5 linked regions of the Homo sapiens genome follow. The protein of the gene in region 1 purifies or fractionates together with the protein of each later gene. This does not show direct contact. Each region holds a gene or a part of one and is shown in the gene's direction. Other genes may lie near its edges.

Evidence for each region.
Region 2: the proteins of COA5 (region 1) and CASP14 purify together in Homo sapiens (affinity purification with mass spectrometry; one large-scale study listed by BioGRID and IntAct). This does not show direct contact.
Region 3: the proteins of COA5 (region 1) and A2ML1 purify together in Homo sapiens (affinity purification with mass spectrometry; one large-scale study listed by BioGRID and IntAct). This does not show direct contact.
Region 4: the proteins of COA5 (region 1) and CRABP2 purify together in Homo sapiens (affinity purification with mass spectrometry; one large-scale study listed by BioGRID and IntAct). This does not show direct contact.
Region 5: the proteins of COA5 (region 1) and SERPINB8 purify together in Homo sapiens (affinity purification with mass spectrometry; one large-scale study listed by BioGRID and IntAct). This does not show direct contact.

The regions. Positions count from the first base shown.
Region 1 is NC_000002.12:98,602,154-98,605,525, reverse strand, and holds part of COA5 (cytochrome c oxidase assembly factor 5), read left to right. Parts: intron 1-1,334; coding exon 1,335-1,418; intron 1,419-3,372. UniProt on the Homo sapiens protein: Involved in an early step of the mitochondrial complex IV assembly process.
Region 2 is NC_000019.10:15,055,631-15,058,810, forward strand, and holds the end of CASP14 (caspase-14 precursor), read left to right. Parts: intron 1-354; coding exon 355-459; 3' UTR 460-2,663; downstream 2,664-3,180. UniProt on the Homo sapiens protein: Non-apoptotic caspase involved in epidermal differentiation. Is the predominant caspase in epidermal stratum corneum. Seems to play a role in keratinocyte differentiation and is required for cornification.
Region 3 is NC_000012.12:8,857,103-8,860,625, forward strand, and holds part of A2ML1 (alpha-2-macroglobulin-like protein 1 isoform 1 precursor), read left to right. Parts: intron 1-61; coding exon 62-238; intron 239-404; coding exon 405-486; intron 487-843; coding exon 844-1,000; intron 1,001-3,523. UniProt on the Homo sapiens protein: Is able to inhibit all four classes of proteinases by a unique 'trapping' mechanism. This protein has a peptide stretch, called the 'bait region' which contains specific cleavage sites for different proteinases.
Region 4 is NC_000001.11:156,702,784-156,706,826, reverse strand, and holds the start of CRABP2 (cellular retinoic acid-binding protein 2), read left to right. Parts: upstream 1-1,243; 5' UTR 1,244-1,380; coding exon 1,381-1,450; intron 1,451-4,043. UniProt on the Homo sapiens protein: Transports retinoic acid to the nucleus. Regulates the access of retinoic acid to the nuclear retinoic acid receptors.
Region 5 is NC_000018.10:63,980,072-63,983,594, forward strand, and holds part of SERPINB8 (serpin B8), read left to right. Parts: intron 1-1,649; coding exon 1,650-1,767; intron 1,768-3,507; coding exon 3,508-3,523. UniProt on the Homo sapiens protein: Has an important role in epithelial desmosome-mediated cell-cell adhesion.

The DNA.
Region 1 (3,372 bases):
CTTGTGCCTATAATCAGGGCCTAGTCATTTCCCTCAGTCTTCCATGAACGCAGACACTGTTGATCTTGTGACTCTGTGCTGTGAAAATAGGAAAATATAGCAAGTAGGGTGTTACTCTCATATTCATGGTCCAAGACTGGTTTGCTTCCACATCATCAGGCCCGGCAACCTTATGGAGTGAAGTGAGGAAAGGGGCAAGCCTCTTTAAGGACCAACCCAGAAGTTCTACACCTGTTTCCCACACATTCCAGTGGCTAGAACTTAGTCACAGGACCACAGCTAGATGCAAGGGCGTCTAGGAGATCTCACCCAGCCATATGCTGGATAAAAAGGAAGAGCAGACAGCTAGCAGTCTGTTATTTGGGGTGGAGTGGATAACGAATGACTGTCTCTTAGCTTTAGTGTATCTAGATGGATCTTTACCCCAGGCAGTTGACAATATAGGTTGAAAGCTTTTGAAAAAGGTAGCATCTTAGATACAGTTTGAAGAGGCATCAGCTTATAAACTATAGTTATAACCTTTTATATGGTTAGTCTTCTTTTGTCTGCCTCCACGTCGTTCATGTGGGCAACACATCCCACCAGCAGAATTGCAGAGTTTGGAGAGGAAGGAAACCTGCTACTCTTATCCACTTTTGAGAGTCACTGAGGTAGATGACATTTGATATCTAGGACCCAGGCAGACATACAGACTGGAAGGTGGCCAAGACTCCTGGGGAACAGGAATACCACAGACATAGTACCCTGTAGCTTTTCATAGGAAAAACTGGCAGAGCGTGCCTGGCACTTGCAACATAAAGGTTCTGGGGAGTGGCTGCAGTGATGCGGCTGTAGAGTCAAAATCTGCTTGAGGGAAAATCCCTGATTATGCAGAGCAGATGAGCTTTGGGTTATATTTTTTCTGGTGCATGAATGGGCCACATGTTTCTATTTAAGTAGTATTCCAGCCTGCCTTGTTAATATCTTTGTGAAGTGTTTCGTGCCAACACTAAAAATATTCTGATTTTAGGGTACCCAGTTCACACATTTCACCCATAAGGAAATGAAGATAACCCTTTCTAGATTTTTATATAAACAGTTTAAGGAAAAGTATCCAATAGAAACCAGTGTTTTCAAGAATTCAACAGTGTCCTTAAAGTTCCCAAGTTACTTTACAATTTTTTTTTCATTCTTTAGGCACCAATAGCCCAAATGAATTAAGAACTATTTCCTACATAACTTTCTATTTTCCTCCTTTAACACTTTTAAAAAGGACTATTTTCAGAAGGACAATTATTTTGTACTTTGTGAGAAAATTTCCAAGGTGTTTATATTGTTTTATGTGTCTGTCATAGGAAGGAAAATCACCTCGGCAGTGTTTGAAGGAAGGATACTGCAACTCTTTGAAGTACGCATTTTTTGAGTGTAAAAGATCAGTGGTAAGTGGTTAAAGATTTTTAAAAGCCTATGCTAAAAATTAGCTATAGGGAGGTTAAATATATGAATGACTTAATAGTTATAGGTAAGTTGCAGTGATATGGTTTGGAAAAAATTACATAGATAATATTTCTTCCTCCAGTGAGTTAACGTTAGGTAGCGTTCATAAAAACCCACAGCTCATTGTTATGTTCTTCTGTCACCGTGCTAACTACAGCTGCTGAACTTCATGCATTTCTGAAAGTGTGAGAATGAAGTCTCGGCAGGTATATACGGGTAAAAGTTGATGTTGGCCACTCGAGTTCAGATCAGTTGGCAATTGTATACAAACATATAATGTGGAGCTCCAAGGTGTATACATTTGTGCCTTATGTGACTAAGAGAAAATGTCAGTATCTGTGTTTGAATTTTGGAGGGATGGATTGTAGAAATAGGGCCTAAAAAGAGATTACAAATCTCTGGGGTTCATTCTAACATTCTTTGATTTGGAAGATGTATGGAGATCTTTGGAATGGAAACTGAGACCCTTTTCTTGGAGAAATGTATAAAACCAAAAATATGAGCATCCCATTAAAGGAAGAAAGCACTTGGACTTGAGGATGTTTTTTTTTTGTTTTTTGTTTTTTGTTTGAGACGGAGTCTCACTTTGTCACCAGGCTGGAGTGCAGTGGCGCAATCTCAGATCACTGCAACCTCTGCCTCCTGGGTTCAAGAGATTCTCCTGCCTCAGCCTCCTGAGTAGCTGGGATTACAGGCGCCTGCCACTGTGCCCAGCTAATTTTTGTATTTTTTTAGTAGAGATGGGATTTCACCATGTTGGCCAGGCTGGTCTTGAACTCCTGACCTCAGGTGATCTGCCTGCCTCGGCTTCCCAAAGTGCTGGGATTACAGGAGTGAGCCACCACACCTGGCCTTGAGCATGCTTTTGTTTGCTTAGGAACTACACTGCAAATCCCTTCCTTTTTGTTAACAAAAGAAATGGAGGGTACTGATACTTACGACCTGCAAGTGGTTGTAAACAAAGAACTTGGAGCATGTTTGCCAGCTAATCAGATCCAGGGAGGGTGTAAAGTTAGATTAAATTTGGCCCTGCTCTGTTTACTTTCTTAAGTGACATCTTTTCCTGTCATTCAGTGTGAATAGAGGAGGATTTTCTTGCCTTCTCTCACATAGATTTGTTACCCATGTAAAATGCAAACCTTTAACTTTGTCAAGAATTTCAAAGCGTGTGCAGTAAACCCTCTGAAATTCTCTACCTAAAGCTCAGTCTTCGATCTCCAAAGAACGAAGTCAGATTTTTTTTTATTTTTACAATTTATCTACTTTCAGCAGAAATTTTTAACAATCTTACATAAAAAGTAAAATGATCTTACCATTTCTAAATATCAGTACAAGGCAGAGTTTCACATATACTTTGACACTGAGAAGAGCACCTTAGGGACCCTTTTTTTTTTTTTTTTTGAGATGGAGTCTCGCTCTGTTGCCCGGGCTGGAGTGCAGTAGTGTGATCTTGGCTCGCTGCAACCTCTGCGTCCTGGGTTCAAGTGATTCTCGTGCTTCAGCCTCCCGAGTAGCTGGGACTACAGGCAGCTGCCACCATGCCCAGCTAAGTTTTATATTTTTAGTAGAGATGGGGTTTCGCCATGTTGGCCAGGCTGGTCTCAAACTCCTGATCCACCCACCTCTCCCTCCCAGAGTGCTGGGATTACAGGCATGAGCCATTAACACCCGACCAGCTTAGGGACCTTTTTATAATCTTTCTCCAAGACCATGTTTTACTGTTAGTCCTCCAAAATGAGTAGAGTCATATCGCTGTTAATGCAACTTGTTATACATGCTTGGCAAAAAACCCAGAAATATAAACATTTAAATTGTGTGGGTAATTTTGTATGCTATTAAAGTGAGTGTGCATCTTATTGAAGGTGAGATGGGAAGTTTGAATCTGCTGTTCTCTCA
Region 2 (3,180 bases), on another chromosome or scaffold:
GCTCCAAATCCAAGCCAGATCTCAATACAGAAACTAAGAAGCCCACTTTCCAACAACTTTCCCAAATGCAGGGACTCTTAAAAGCCACAGTATGGGAGATAAATTTCTATAAACAAATCCCCCTTGGATATAAACAATGTTTGGGCAAACTGTTTTCTTTTAATGTTTATATGTTTTTATTGCAAATTATTTAAAAAATGCCCAGCCAAGGATTCCATACAAACTATGGTATAGGAAGAGGCCACAACGGTCTCTCATCTTAGGACAAGAATACCCACCTGCCCCGTTCCCTAACCCTCCCCCCATAAGTCCATGACACTGACTCCTCCAAGCTCACCACACCTGTTGCTGCAGGTGACCCGGCGGATGGCAGAAGCAGAGCTGGTTCAAGAAGGAAAAGCAAGGAAAACGAACCCTGAAATCCAAAGCACCCTCCGGAAACGGCTGTATCTGCAGTAGAAGTAGAAAGACCAGGAGGAGCTTTCCTTCCAGCATTCTTTCTGTCTCACAGAAATTTAGAGGCAGCTCTTACCTCTCCCCAAGATCTTCTGTTCCCAAGGCCAAATGGCACCCAGTTTCTTTTCCATCACACCCTTCATGCAGGTCCTCCTGTCCTTATTAGAGCAAGCCAGCCAAAACTTAGCACAAGGCATGGTGGCAACATTAACATCACCTCCCTCAGGCTGGACTTTCTATCTTTATTAATGCAACCGAAGAGACCTAAGAGTGCATTCACTTATCCCACTTTCTGTTCCTGTGGTCTTCTTTCTCCCATGAAGCAGAAACTGGATAAAGCTCAAGATTTTCCATAGACAAACCAAAGCCCACTCATCCCCTCCTACCCCAATCCAACCTCTGCTGGCTCCTGCATCTCACTTGGAGGTCAAACCTCCTCCTGAGGCCAATGCATTCCCAACTTCCAGTTCTTTCCTTTACCCTGGAGAGTTAGTAAGGTAAGAACCATTCTTTCTCTCCAAAACCACTCCTCCTTGGCTGGCAAGTTGGTGTCCTAACTCCGTTCTCTTCCTAGCTCATGGCCTCTCTAGATAATAAAGTTGTCTCCTCCTTTCTGGATCTCTTCCTCCTAACACCCCTCCCCTGAAACCCTGGACTCTGCCCTCTCTCCAAGAAAATCCATCTATTCAACTATTCTTGCATTCAATTACTCTAAATGAGAGCGTGTTGGAGCTATGGCAAATTCCCTGTTGTCACCTTGCTATTTTGCAGACAACATAATATTTAACCTCTCATAACCAGAGAGGTTAAATAATTTGTCAAATGCAATACAGTAAGACAGAGGCAAGGACAAGGTTTGACTTCCAGCCCAGCCTCTTTTCCACAACCTGCTAAATCCTGATCCATCTGAAAACTTTTCTAATTAGTGAAGATGACTAATAAAAATTTTCCCTATCTCCAAGGTAGGAGCTTTCTGGAAGTTTCTAGAAATTTTCAATAACCACCAGCCAAGGTTACCTCCAGGTAACCTTGCAGCACCAGGCTGGAAGTCAGATCGGCTTCACTATCTTCCAACTCTACAGCCTGTATCTCTCCATCCCCAGCTTTGACCTTTCCTGCTCAAGTAACCTACGGGCACATCCAGCGTCACTAAAAACTCAGGGCTTTTCTTCCCGGTTACTCCTCCAAGCGTTCCCTGGTATCCTCAACCTCAGATCCCAGGTTCAGATTTCTGCAGTCAATCTATGACCCCTCTCTTCTTGCATCCTTCATATGCCACCAGACACCATGCCCAGTCCAGCCTGATTTTGAAACAACTTTCATGCCGGTCTTCTCTTCCCTGACATGTTACTGTCCAGGCTCAAGTCCTCAGCTTCTCATATCTGCATCTTTGCAACCAACTTCCTCCCTTGCCTCTCTGCTTTTCCATCCCACTTTTCATGTGTCCTCCATACCATCTATAACAGTGATCTCCCTGGAACACTCAAGAAGACACAACATACCATATTATTTAAAGACCAGGGTACTGGACAGTGGCTCACACCTGTATTCCCGACTTTGAGAGTCTGAAGCGGGAGGATCACTTGAGGCCAGGAGTTAAGAGACCAGCCTGGGCAACACAGCAAGACCCTGTCTCTAAAAAAAAAAATTAATTAACTGGGTATGGTGGCACATGCCTGTAGTCCCAGCTACTCAGGAGGCTGAGGTGGGAGGATGACTTGAGCCCAGGAGTTTGAGGCTGCAAGGAGCTATGATCATGCCAGTGCATCCCAGCTCTAGGTGAGACAGTGAGATCCGGTCTCCAAAATAAATCAATCAATCAAATAAAGACCAAAGTCAAACCGCACATCAGGATCTCTCACACCCTTCCAATTTTGCCATCTACCAGCACTTAGCTAAACCCATCTCCCATCTCTTCCACCATGAATTCACTCTTTCAAAAAGGCTAATGTCTTCTTACTCACCCTTGCCTCTAAGCCTTTGCTATCACCATTTCCCCCAAGCTGGAGGGCCCTCCCTCTCCCTTTACCCCTCTTCCACTACCTCCCACCCCTACTTTTTCCAGAAAGCCATTTCCTCTCTTTTTTCTGATTGATCCTTCCCTCTCACCCAGGATTAGATGCTGGAAATGACCACTTCTGGAGGGCAGGGAACAAGCCCTTAATCTGCATAATGAGTGTTCAATAAACAGTTGTCAAACTTTGAAAGAAAGTGTTGAAATCTTTGTTCTGTGCTGAAACAGTGAGGCTGATACAAAAGGAGTTATGGATTTAATTTCTTTTTTCCCAGTGGCTGGCTTCCTCCCAGGTGTGTCTATCATGAATGGAGAATCAGGAGCTTCAGCCTGTGTCTTCTTTCCTTTTTTTTTTCTTTAAGAGATGAGATCTTGCTCTGCCACCCAGGCTGGAGTACAGTGGCACCATCATAGCTCACTGCACCCTCGACCTCCTGGGCTCAAGCAATCCTCCCACCTCAGCCTCTCATGTAGCTGGGACTACAGGTGTGCATCACCACACCTGGCTAATTTTCTTATTTTTCGGTAGAGATTGGGTCTTGCTATGTTGCCGAGGCTGGTCTCACAGTCCTGGTCTCAAGCAATCCTCTTGCCTTGGCCTCCCAAAGTGCTGAGATTACAGATGTGACCCACCACACCGAGCTCCTGTCTCTTTCACAAAAACAGACGTGTTGGGAATTTGTAAAGTTACAGGCCACACTTTCATGCTG
Region 3 (3,523 bases), on another chromosome or scaffold:
ACTCTTAGAGGGTCCCTTCTTCTCTGTACCCCTACCTTCTCTCTCTCCTTTTGGATCCCAGGAGACATTATGGGCACAGCCCTGCAGAACCTGGATGGTCTGGTGCAGATGCCCAGTGGCTGTGGCGAGCAGAACATGGTCTTGTTTGCTCCCATCATCTATGTCTTGCAGTACCTGGAGAAGGCAGGGCTGCTGACGGAGGAGATCAGGTCTCGGGCAGTGGGTTTCCTGGAAATAGGTAAGTTGGTTCAGTCTTTCTTTCTTGAACACTCTCCTCCACTAGGCCCTATGACAGATTGATGATACAGGGAATTCCAGCCCCTCAAGTGTCCCATATCCTTGAACGGCATGGGGGTGTTTTCTGAAGTTGTCGCTGTGATCTAAAACCACATTTGGCTTCCCAGGGTACCAGAAGGAGCTGATGTACAAACACAGCAATGGCTCATACAGTGCCTTTGGGGAGCGAGATGGAAATGGAAACACATGGTAATATCACCCAATTCCCAATGAGTTCTGTACTCCAGAGCATAATTCCTGAGCCCTCTGGAACTATTCCACTACCTCTCCCCTTAACCCCTTTCCTTCTTGCACTCAGTCTTCTACCTCTTTAATACTGTTTATTTCACCCTCATGGATGGTCAAGTCCCTCGATCTTCCTGAGCTTGTGCCTCCCCTGTTCTTGTCCTCATTGGTGCCCATTAATGCCTCTCTTTTCTAGGCCTGCTATGGCATATGTTCCCTCAGCTCCCCTTCTGGAAGTATACACCCAAATAAATGAAGAAATGATTGCACCCTCACCTGGAAATTCCTCTTCATGCCATATTTTCCTCTTTACCCATGTAGGCTGACAGCGTTTGTCACAAAATGCTTTGGCCAAGCTCAGAAATTCATCTTCATTGATCCCAAGAACATCCAGGATGCTCTCAAGTGGATGGCAGGAAACCAGCTCCCCAGTGGCTGCTATGCCAACGTGGGAAATCTCCTTCACACAGCTATGAAGGTGCGGATCTGTCCAGGAGCCTGCAGCCAACCACTGTCTCGAAGGACCCCACACCTCTGACCGAGTAGAAGCAAAAGAGCACTGGCCTGGGAATCAGTTTTCTCCTGATCTCCACTGTGGCTCTGGGTGACCGTGATCAAAATGCTTAGCTGGTCTGGGCCTCAGTTTTCATGTCTGTAGAATGAGAATACAGATGAAGCCTGGGTGCAGTGGCTCATGCCTGTAATCCCAGCACTTTGGGAGGCCGAGGCGGGCAGATCGTTTGGGCCCAGGAGTTTGAGACCACCCTGGGCAACATGGTGAAACCCCATCTCTACAAAAAAAATATGAAAAATTAATCAGGCTTGTTAGTGCATGCCTGTAGTCCCAGCTACTTGGGTGGTTGAGGTTGGAGGATCACTTGAACCCAGGAGGTCAAGCCTGCAGTGAGCCGTGATTGCACCACTGCACCCCAACCTGGGTGACCGAGTGAGACCCTGCCTCAAAAAGAAAAAGAGAATGTGGACTGGAACATGGTTCTCAAAGCATAGTTCCCAGATCAGGAGCATTGGCATCACATGGGAACTTGTTGGAAACGCAGATTCTGACTCCCAGCCCACACCTACTGAATGAGAAACTCTGGGAGGGTGGGCCAGAAATTTGTGTTTTGACAAGCCCTCCTGATTATTCTGATACACACTGAAATTTGATACTACTGGACTAAAAGATCTCTGGGCCTCTTACTGTGTCACCAAATCCATCTGGGAAAGCCATTTCCTGTGGTGAGGACTAGTAGGCAGCCCAACGTCTTTTGTAAGAAGTTTACTCTATTGGGCACTATTCTAGGCACGTGGTTTATTTGATATTATTTCATGTTTACAACAAATCAATGAGCTAGGTATTGGTATGCCATTATTAATCCCATTTTACAGATGAAGAAACTAAGCCATGGAGACTAAGTAAATTGCCCAAGGTGCATGCTAATAAGTGGCAGGACTGAGATTTGAACCAGGCAGTTGCACTCCAGAGGCACTGCTTTCTTCTGTTCACTACCTTGTCTGTACCTGTCCCAAGCAGAGGGCGAGGCGTAGATCCTGCAGGATAACTTGTTCAATTCAGGACACACTCAGTGCAAGAAAGACTTGTATAAACTTTTCTAGAGAGATCACTTACATTGCTATTCCAGGGCAAGGATTAAAAATCTTGAGTGTTAAAAAAAAAATCTATTTATAGGATTCATTAGTCTTCCTCTGCAGGATCTTATTAGTCTCCCCTAAGTTTTTGTCTTCTTCTTCTCTTATACACTGTATGAAATATGCGTGGGGGCCAGGCGCAGTGGCTCATGCTTGTAATCCCAGCATTCTGGGAGGCTGAGGCGAGTGGATCATGAGGTCAGGAATTAGAGACCAGTCTGAAACCCTGTCTCTACTAAGATAAAGGACTTGACTAGAGCAAGATCTCAGAGGTATTCTTCCTTCTTTCCCTTTTTTTTCTTTTCTTTTTTTCTTGAGACAAGAGTCTTACTCTGTTGTACAGGCTGGAGTGTAGTTGCGCAATCCCAGCTCACTGCAACCTCTACCTCCTGGGTTCAAGTGATCTCAGCCTCCTGAGCAGCTGGGACTACAGGCATGTGCCACCATGCCTGGCTACTTTTTGTATTTTTAGTAGAGATGGGGTTTCACCATGTTTGGCCAGGCTGGTCTTGAACTCCTGGCCTCAAGTGATCCACCCGCCTTGACCTCCCAAAGTGCTGGGATTACAAGCGTGACCTATGCGTGCCCAGCCTCTTCCTACTTTCTTTTGAGAGCAGGCCAGTCCATTGAGAAATCCATCCTCTGTGTAGCCAAGGTTAGTGGTGTGGCACATGAGCTCCAGAGTTAAATGTCCTGGGTTCAAATTCCAGTCCTGCTGCAGATGAGCCATGTAACCGTGAGCAAGCTATTTAATCTTTTTATTTATTTACTTATTCATTTTTTTGAGACAGGGTCTCACTCTGTCACCCAGGCTGAAGTGCAGTGGCACGATCATGGCTCACTGCAGCCTTGACCTCCCCGGGCTCAGATGATCCTCCTACTTTAGCTTCCTGAATAGCTGGGACCACGGATCCACGTGCCACTACACCTGGCTAATTTTTGCAGGTTTTGTAGAGTTGGGGTTTTACCGTGTTGCCCAGGCTGGCCTCAAACTCCTGAGCTCAAGCGATCCTCCCCACCGACTTGGCCTCAAGCTGGGATAATAGGCATAAACCACTGTGCGTGACCACAAGCTATTTAATCTTGTTAAGTGTTTGTTTTCTTATTTATAGAATGAGGATAATAATTTGAGTAGATATTTTTAAAAATTTGCTTAGCTCTTTCTGGGAAAGGCGATAAGCAGGGAAGGTCTCACCTAATCTCTGCTGGAGAAGGGCTGGGTATTGTGCTGCTTGAGGGGAGCTGCATGTGAGGAGGCTCAGATGCGGTGATGCGGCAGATTCTCTCCTTATTCCTCCCTTCTTTAAAGCTCTTACCCTTCCTAACTCCTTCTCTTGGGTTTCTTAAATAC
Region 4 (4,043 bases), on another chromosome or scaffold:
CGGGCCGAAGGCCCCCCCGCGTTGGACAGGCCGGGACGGTTCCTTTGGCTCCAATCACTGCATCCCGCCAGGCTTCGCTCCTCTGCGGTTTCCGGCCTCGGGTCCCAGGCCTGTCCCCGAGGCTCCCCGCCTGACCTCCGTTTCTGTTTCTCCGTCTCCCTGCCATCTCCACTGGGGTCTCGCCCACTCCCACTCGGGTCTCTGCAGGAAGCCGTGCCCTCCTCCCACCCTCTTTGATCTCCCGTTTCAAAGCCGCTCTCCAAGGGAGGGGAGGTCGCTCCTTCCGCCCGTTTTACAGCTCAGGATGGTGACACCTGAGACCCTGCTCCGCCTTCTCCCCCGGCACCCATCCTCCCGCCTATCTAGGTGGTGGCGCAGCTCGCCAGGGCTCCGCGCCTCTGTCCCCGCCTCCCTCCCTTCCCCCTACTGAGACCCCCTCGGGGTCTCGGGAGTGAAGCGACAGAGAAAGCGTTTTAATAAAGACCTTGCGTCAAGTGATTGGCTGTGACCTCTGCCCTCCCAGCCTCGCGCCCTGGGCTCCTGCTTAACCCTTCAATGTCCGCCCAGCGCATTAAGGGGAGCGAGTCGCCTGGCGACTACTTCCAGAGTCCCCAGGCATTACGTGAGCCCGAAGCAGGGTGGAGGGGTGGGGGGACCGTGCCGCCCCCGCCCAGCCTCTCCGAGTTGTTCCAGCAGGGGGCGCCGTTGCCTCACTTAGATCCCTAACCCCCGGAACCCCGCAGCTCCCAAGCCCCTCTCTGAGTACGGAGTGGTCCCACTGGATCCAGTTCAGGGTTCAATGGAGCTAGGGCCAGCTACGGCTCAAGATCTGGGGTCCGCCTGCGGGTGGGGTCGCCAGGTGTCCGGCACCAAGGAGTTGAATGCACCGAGTCAGGTTGGGGATGGGTGGGGAACAGGCGAGACGTGAGGAACTCGGGTGGGGGACAGCCATACACGAGCCCTGAGCATCTGCGCCCGCAGCTAGCTCCCCCCGCCTCTGCGGAGAGCGCGATTCAAGTGCTGGCTTTGCGTCCGCTTCCCCATCCACTTACTAGCGCAGGAGAAGGCTATCTCGGTCCCCAGAGAAGCCTGGACCCACACGCGGGCTAGATCCAGAGGTTGGTGGCGGGGGCGCAGGGCCCCCCAGGTGGGGGGGGGCGGAGCGGGAGGCGGGGCCACTTCAATCCTGGGCAGGGGCGGTTCCGTACAGGGTATAAAAGCTGTCCGCGCGGGAGCCCAGGCCAGCTTTGGGGTTGTCCCTGGACTTGTCTTGGTTCCAGAACCTGACGACCCGGCGACGGCGACGTCTCTTTTGACTAAAAGACAGTGTCCAGTGCTCCAGCCTAGGAGTCTACGGGGACCGCCTCCCGCGCCGCCACCATGCCCAACTTCTCTGGCAACTGGAAAATCATCCGATCGGAAAACTTCGAGGAATTGCTCAAAGTGCTGGGTAAGGAAATGTTCGAGGGCCCAGGTGGGGCAAGGGGGGGCTCTGGAGTCCTCGAAGTTGGGGATGAGAAAGACAGCGGGACCACAATCAGGGCGTGAGACACTGGGTGCCTGCATCCCCGAAAAACGTGCCAGGCGTCCGGGTCCCGGGGCTCTGGGCACGACGCCTAAATCCCGCTTTCTCCTGCGGGGGCCCACCGGTGCCAACACTGCGGTGACTCACGGCCTGTGAATCACGTAGAAACCAGAAGCGCGAGGTTGGCCTCTGGGGGAAGGGGAGGCTGGCCTCAGCGGCCGGACTCGGCGGGCCGAGGCACCTGGCTCTCTGCAGTTCAGAAGCTGCGGGCTGGTGGAGCCACGAACCCTGCATCCAGACTGGGAGCCCGGTTCCCTACCCTGCCCAGCCGCTCGGAGACATTCCAATCTCCTTCCCGGTGCCCCCCTCGGTAACCCAATCCCCAGGGCAGGCTCATTACCCCTCGGCGCCCAGCTCTGCCTGCGAGGTGATCTGCTGCCCCAGCGCCCCCTGAGCCCCACTTTCCTCCCCCTCTGCACTTTCCACTCTGCTCTCCCCACCCCCCATCTGTGAGACAAGTATTTTCATACAGCGAGCAGCTCCAGAGTTCTAAAATCGCTAGGGATAATTATCACTTTCTTGGATTTCAACAAATGGTTTCGTGTGAAACCCCAATCCCACATTTCCAAAAATCTAGGTTCCCACCTACCTCCCCCGACCATAGATCGGCTGCAGCCCAATTGGGTGTGTTGGTCAAAGGTGGGGAAAACTAAGTCAATCCAGACTGCCTTTCCCACTTTTCCAGCCCACCTTCTGTGTGCCCTCTGGGCCAACTGGGCTAGACATCTGGGGCAGGGGAGAGTGCCAGGACCTGGTGACTGGGAGAGGACTCTGGGGGAGAGATGGACGTTAGTTAAGGACCCCAGCCACTGGGAGCGTAAGGGCAGGCCTGCTGCCTTCAATTCCTGCACTCAACAGAGAGACGGTAGTTCGGCTGGGTTGGGCGAGAGGGGAGGGAGGGAAGGCACCCCTCTCCCTGGACTATAGGAGTGAGTCTGGATCTAAGACAGGTCTGGAATGCTGCAGAGAGAGCAGGGATCTCCATCAGTCCTTGCCGTTAGTTCTTCCTGCGATCTAACCACAATACTTCTTGGAGTCATATCAGTCTTTCTTGCTCTGTCCTTGCTAAACTTAAAGACAAAAAGAAATTTTCTCTTTGGAAAGCCTAGATGCCACTCCCTCCTCATCTTCTCTGGATTCTGGCCCCTGTCCTCAGTGGATGAGGTGGTGGTCTGGTACACCCCCAGGCCCCAGCTGAAGAGTAAGATTCAAGGCCCCAATCCTGCTGTCTGTCTTCAGTCTGTTTGTCCTCCCTGCAGGGTCTCTCTGAGCCACGTGCCCTCCTCAGGCCCTGCAGGGGGCAGATTAAAAACAGATCCATTAGACAAACACAGTCCTGAGCCAGCTAAGGCCGGCTAAGCTGGGCCCTCAGCTCCACAGGCACCAGGGGCTCGCTGAAAGGATGTCTCCTCTGAACCCAGCCTTGCCTCTGCAGGAACTTCGGTCCTGGCACACCCCTCTTAGCTCTAGTCAAGGGTCCATCTCAATAAGACTTGGGGACCTGTCATTTCTTCCTAGACACAAGAGTTCAGCAGCCAACAATGGGGGTCCTGGGCTCCCCAGGGGCAAGGCTTCCTCTCTCCCTCTCTCTTCTGTTTGCAGTAGGGTAGGTATGCTTTGGCACTGAGGGGAAAGAGGATTTGTTTCTCTAGGAACCCAGGTCTGGAGGAGGTCCAGGGAGTTGGCCAGATCAGGGGCAGGGAAATCCTGCTACCTGGCAGAGGGCCCTTTCACCCCCGCCTAGTGCATCCCTGGCTCTACTCCAGGACAGGGCGGCAGATCAGGCCAGGTGAGGTGGGTGTGTGGAGCTTAGACCTGGAGCCCATCCAGAGAGGCCCCCTGCTCTGCACGTCTTCCTTTCAGAGGGGTGCTGTCTCCTATCTCCCCCACTTCGGTTAATAACTGGGGAGCAGAGAGAAGGGGTCCAATCTGGGCTGGGATATGGAGGTGCACAGAGAGTCTGAATCCACGAGGCTGAATGAGATAGCCGGACCCTGTGAGGGGAGTGGGGGGTCCTGAAGAAGGGGATACATCACACAGAGCGGGGAGGGCAGTCTCCTTTTCTATTCCTTCTTCTCACAGCAGAGGGGGTTCCCTTGAGGGGACAGGGGTATGGGAGTCTTCCAGAAGGGCAGATGAGTACGGTGCCTAATGCAGAGAGCTTTGAGCCCCAGCTTTTTGCTTTCCTTTTTTTTTTTTTTTTTTTTTTTAGTGGTAGGGTCTCACTGTGTTGCCCAATCTAGTCTCAAACTTCTGGGCTTAAGCAGTCCTGCTGCCTCGGCCTCCCAAAGTGCTGGGATTACAGGCATGAGCCATGGCACCTGACCCTTTGCCTTCCTTTTATCAGTAAAAATAATACCAACAATCATAGCTATTGTTTCCTGAAAACTTAAGCATATGCCTGGCACTGTGTGTGCTAAGTCCTAAACACATACCATCCCAATTGGCTTTTTTTTTT
Region 5 (3,523 bases), on another chromosome or scaffold:
TTATGATGACTTCTGAATTACGTCCTTTGTAAATTGTTACTGATACACCCATCCCTGTTATCAATCCCAATATGTCAATTCTCCTGCACGCAGCCCTGCTTCTCCCCCTTAATTCCCTGTCCCTGAGTGACCACATCATTCAACACGCTGTACAGAGCTCCTCCCCAGTCCCAAGTGTGGTTATTCGGCTGCCTCCTGCTGAGGTAGCCTCTCAAATTCTCTTAAATTTGCCCGCCCTCTTCTGAATTGCACCTACAACTGACACAATCGTCTTTCTAAAATGAAAATCTGTTCATAAAATTGAGGTTTTAAATCTAAGCAGTTTCTATTTACTTCAGCATATAATTCCAAGGTTCCCTAGTCCAGCCTGGCATAATGCAATCAGTGAGGTTCAAAAATCATGCCACCTGATATGCAGGGTGATGTTGTCTTAAAATTAGTGAACTGATTGCAGCAAGCTTGGCCATCCTATTGGCTGGAGGTTCTGAGAGGACTCCTCTAAGGCTCAAATACATCCCTGTCCTGGTAGCTGCTGGGTGCTGTTCCCGGAATTTGCCTGCTCTGGGTTTATCTACCTCAGAAGGTGACTCTGGATCCCAGGAATCTCCTGATGAATCCATTTCATTTTTGAACATCAGCCTGATCTACTACTGTTGTAATACTTGGGACACAGGGAGCCAACCTCTACTTTTCCTGGTGGCTTGGCTCCTCCTTCCCTCTATATCCTCTTTCTTTGGCTGAAATTAAAATATTTGAGAACAGGGAATGGACAGAGGCTGGGAGCCAGTTTCCAGGCCTATTATATCCAAAGCCAGGTTTTTGTGAGGTAAGTTATCTGGGTTTTAATGTGTTGGGTACAGGACTTTTCTGATTGGACCCCAACTTACATTTCAAGGCTCTTCCCCTGCCACTGTTTCCCTTAATCCCCTCCCTGATACACACAAACACACATACACATGTACACACACACACAAACATGCATGCAATCCACACACATGCAGGTGCCCAAGCACTCACATGTACACATGTGCACTCATGCACACAGATGTTCACACGCATGCACACGTATGAACCCAGTTGCACACACACCCTATGATCCAGGCCTATCACGCTCCATTCCCATGGGGCCTTCCTTGCTCTGTATTCTTCCAACCAACCATATGACCCAGATCTAAAATGCTATTTCCTTCTTTGCAGTTCAACACGATTTCTTAACAATCTAGTTCCCTTATAAAGCCTCTCGTTTAACCAAAACCACAATACTGTAGTTGGTGCTGGTGATGCAAAATGAGTAAAAGTGTGTTAGACTGCCTAGTGAGGGAAGCAATATTAAAGTCAGTGGAGAGCGTTTGACAAGGATGCTCCTGTGATGTTTTGTGGATAGTGGCAGCTCATGATGTCCTGTAAGTGTCTGGGTGTCTCAGCTGCCTCTTCTCAGGCTGTGGACCTCCTCAAGCCAAGCACCTTGCCCAGTACCAGGCAAGAATAGGTGGCCCATACATTTTTGTTAATTGCACGCATGCACCTTGAAGTGGAGTGTGACCTGTCCAAGCACTTATTGTAGAAATGCAGTAAGAGAAAACAAAATGCTTTTGCATTTGTGGGAACCTTTACCAAATGAGACTAAACTCAGTGTTTTGTGTTTGCAGGACTTTAAAGAATACTGTCAGAAGTTCTATCAGGCAGAGCTGGAGGAGTTGTCCTTTGCTGAAGACACTGAAGAGTGCAGGAAGCATATAAATGACTGGGTGGCAGAGAAGACTGAAGGTGAGACAGTTTCATTTCTGTTGATTTGGAATTACTATACAACGAGGCTTAGATTGACTGGGATGGGACTTCCCAGGGTGTTGCCACTGTGACCTGCATACCACAGGCCTGTTTGTATGTGTTTGCTGAGTTTACAGGCCAGCAATGCAACTCTGTCATTTCTTATCAGATCATGAAGTACTGATTTCTAAAACTAATGTTGAATCTCTGACCTCCTCCCCTGTGGACCGTGCTGGAAAATCCCTGGAAAATGGCTCCTCCTTGGAATTCTGTTAATCTTCTATCTGAGAGGCCCTTCCATGCTCGGAGACAGAATGGCATTCAATTAAGTTGCGGCTTAGAGAGGGCAACATTTCATGCTCTCATGTTATCTCCTCCGCGTGGTAATGGGACAGCTCAGTAGTTTGATCTGCAGCCTTCTCCTTCCTTTTTAACTTGGCCATGGCTACATTTGCTCTCAGAGTGTGGCCTTTTCTGAATTTGTTCCCTATTCTGGAGGTGCAGCGACATGGAGCCTGCAGTGTTCCCTGCCCAGACCACATTCCATCCCACCAGAAATATTTCTGCCAGTTCTTTACTTCAGTAGGAAAAAGGGGGAGTCATACTTTAAAGCATCCTAAATACCTAACAAGTAATTTCGATACTTGTAAACGGTGGAGGAATTAAGTCACTTATTTCAAGGGCCAACCTAGCACTCATTATTGCATCCATTCCATCCTATGTCGCAACCACTGTGTGTCCAGCAGAAGTAATGCCCCTGATTCTACTGAAAGCCAATACAATAATTACCATGGGAAGGGAAGAGCCTTTTGTGTTTTCATACATCATCTGCCTAGTGGTCTTTCCAGTTGTTCAACAGTACTGTCACCTGAGGAACCTAGAAGTTTCTCCACACCTTCCCCCCACTGCCCTATACCTGTCACTGCTCTTCCAGGGCTGCTTATGCCCTTCCTTCCCTTAGGCTGACCACCCACATTTCCCCCAGAATATTAGAGCTGAAGGGGACCTTGGAGATGACCTTGTTACCCTCTCATTGGACAACTCAATTTGGGCCCCTCTATTCTACCCCCCTAATTCCTTTGCCCCATTCACCCCCTTCAGAGAGGCTGCCTTCTCCCATTGACAGATCTGTGTTCTCTCATCCTTTGGAAAGCTTTCCTTGTCTGATGAGGTTTGAATATATGCATAGAGCAATGATCCTCAACCAGGGGTAGCTTTGCCCTCCAGGTGCCATTGGATAATGGCTGAAGACAATCTTGGTTGTCAAAATGGGAAGAAATGCTGCTGGCTAAACATCCTACAATGCACAAGACAGCCCCCATAACAAAGAATTATCTGGCTTAAAATGACAATAGCGGTGAGGCTTGGATATGATAGTGCCAAGGTTGACTGCCCCATAGTCAGAATCAAGACTCTGGGGTGATGTTCTCAACTCAGCCACTTGTCACCTGTGTGCACTCAGCAAAAGTCTGGCAAATGCTCTGGTCCTGAATTTCTACATCCATAAATTGAGGGCAAAATGATAGTTGCCCTTCCTACTTCAAGATTTTTTTCTTAAGCACAAATGTTACACTGTGTATGCCACACTGCTAAACACCATCGCCTAATTCATCAGGGGCCCAGAAAGACAGAACTCCAGCCTGTCTCTCAACCAAGCCTCTGCCTTATGTGTCAAAGGGATTTTTGTAAAAGAATGCTTATTTCCCCACAAATTGCAATAAACTCTCATATTCTTTATAGGTAAGATTTCAGAGGT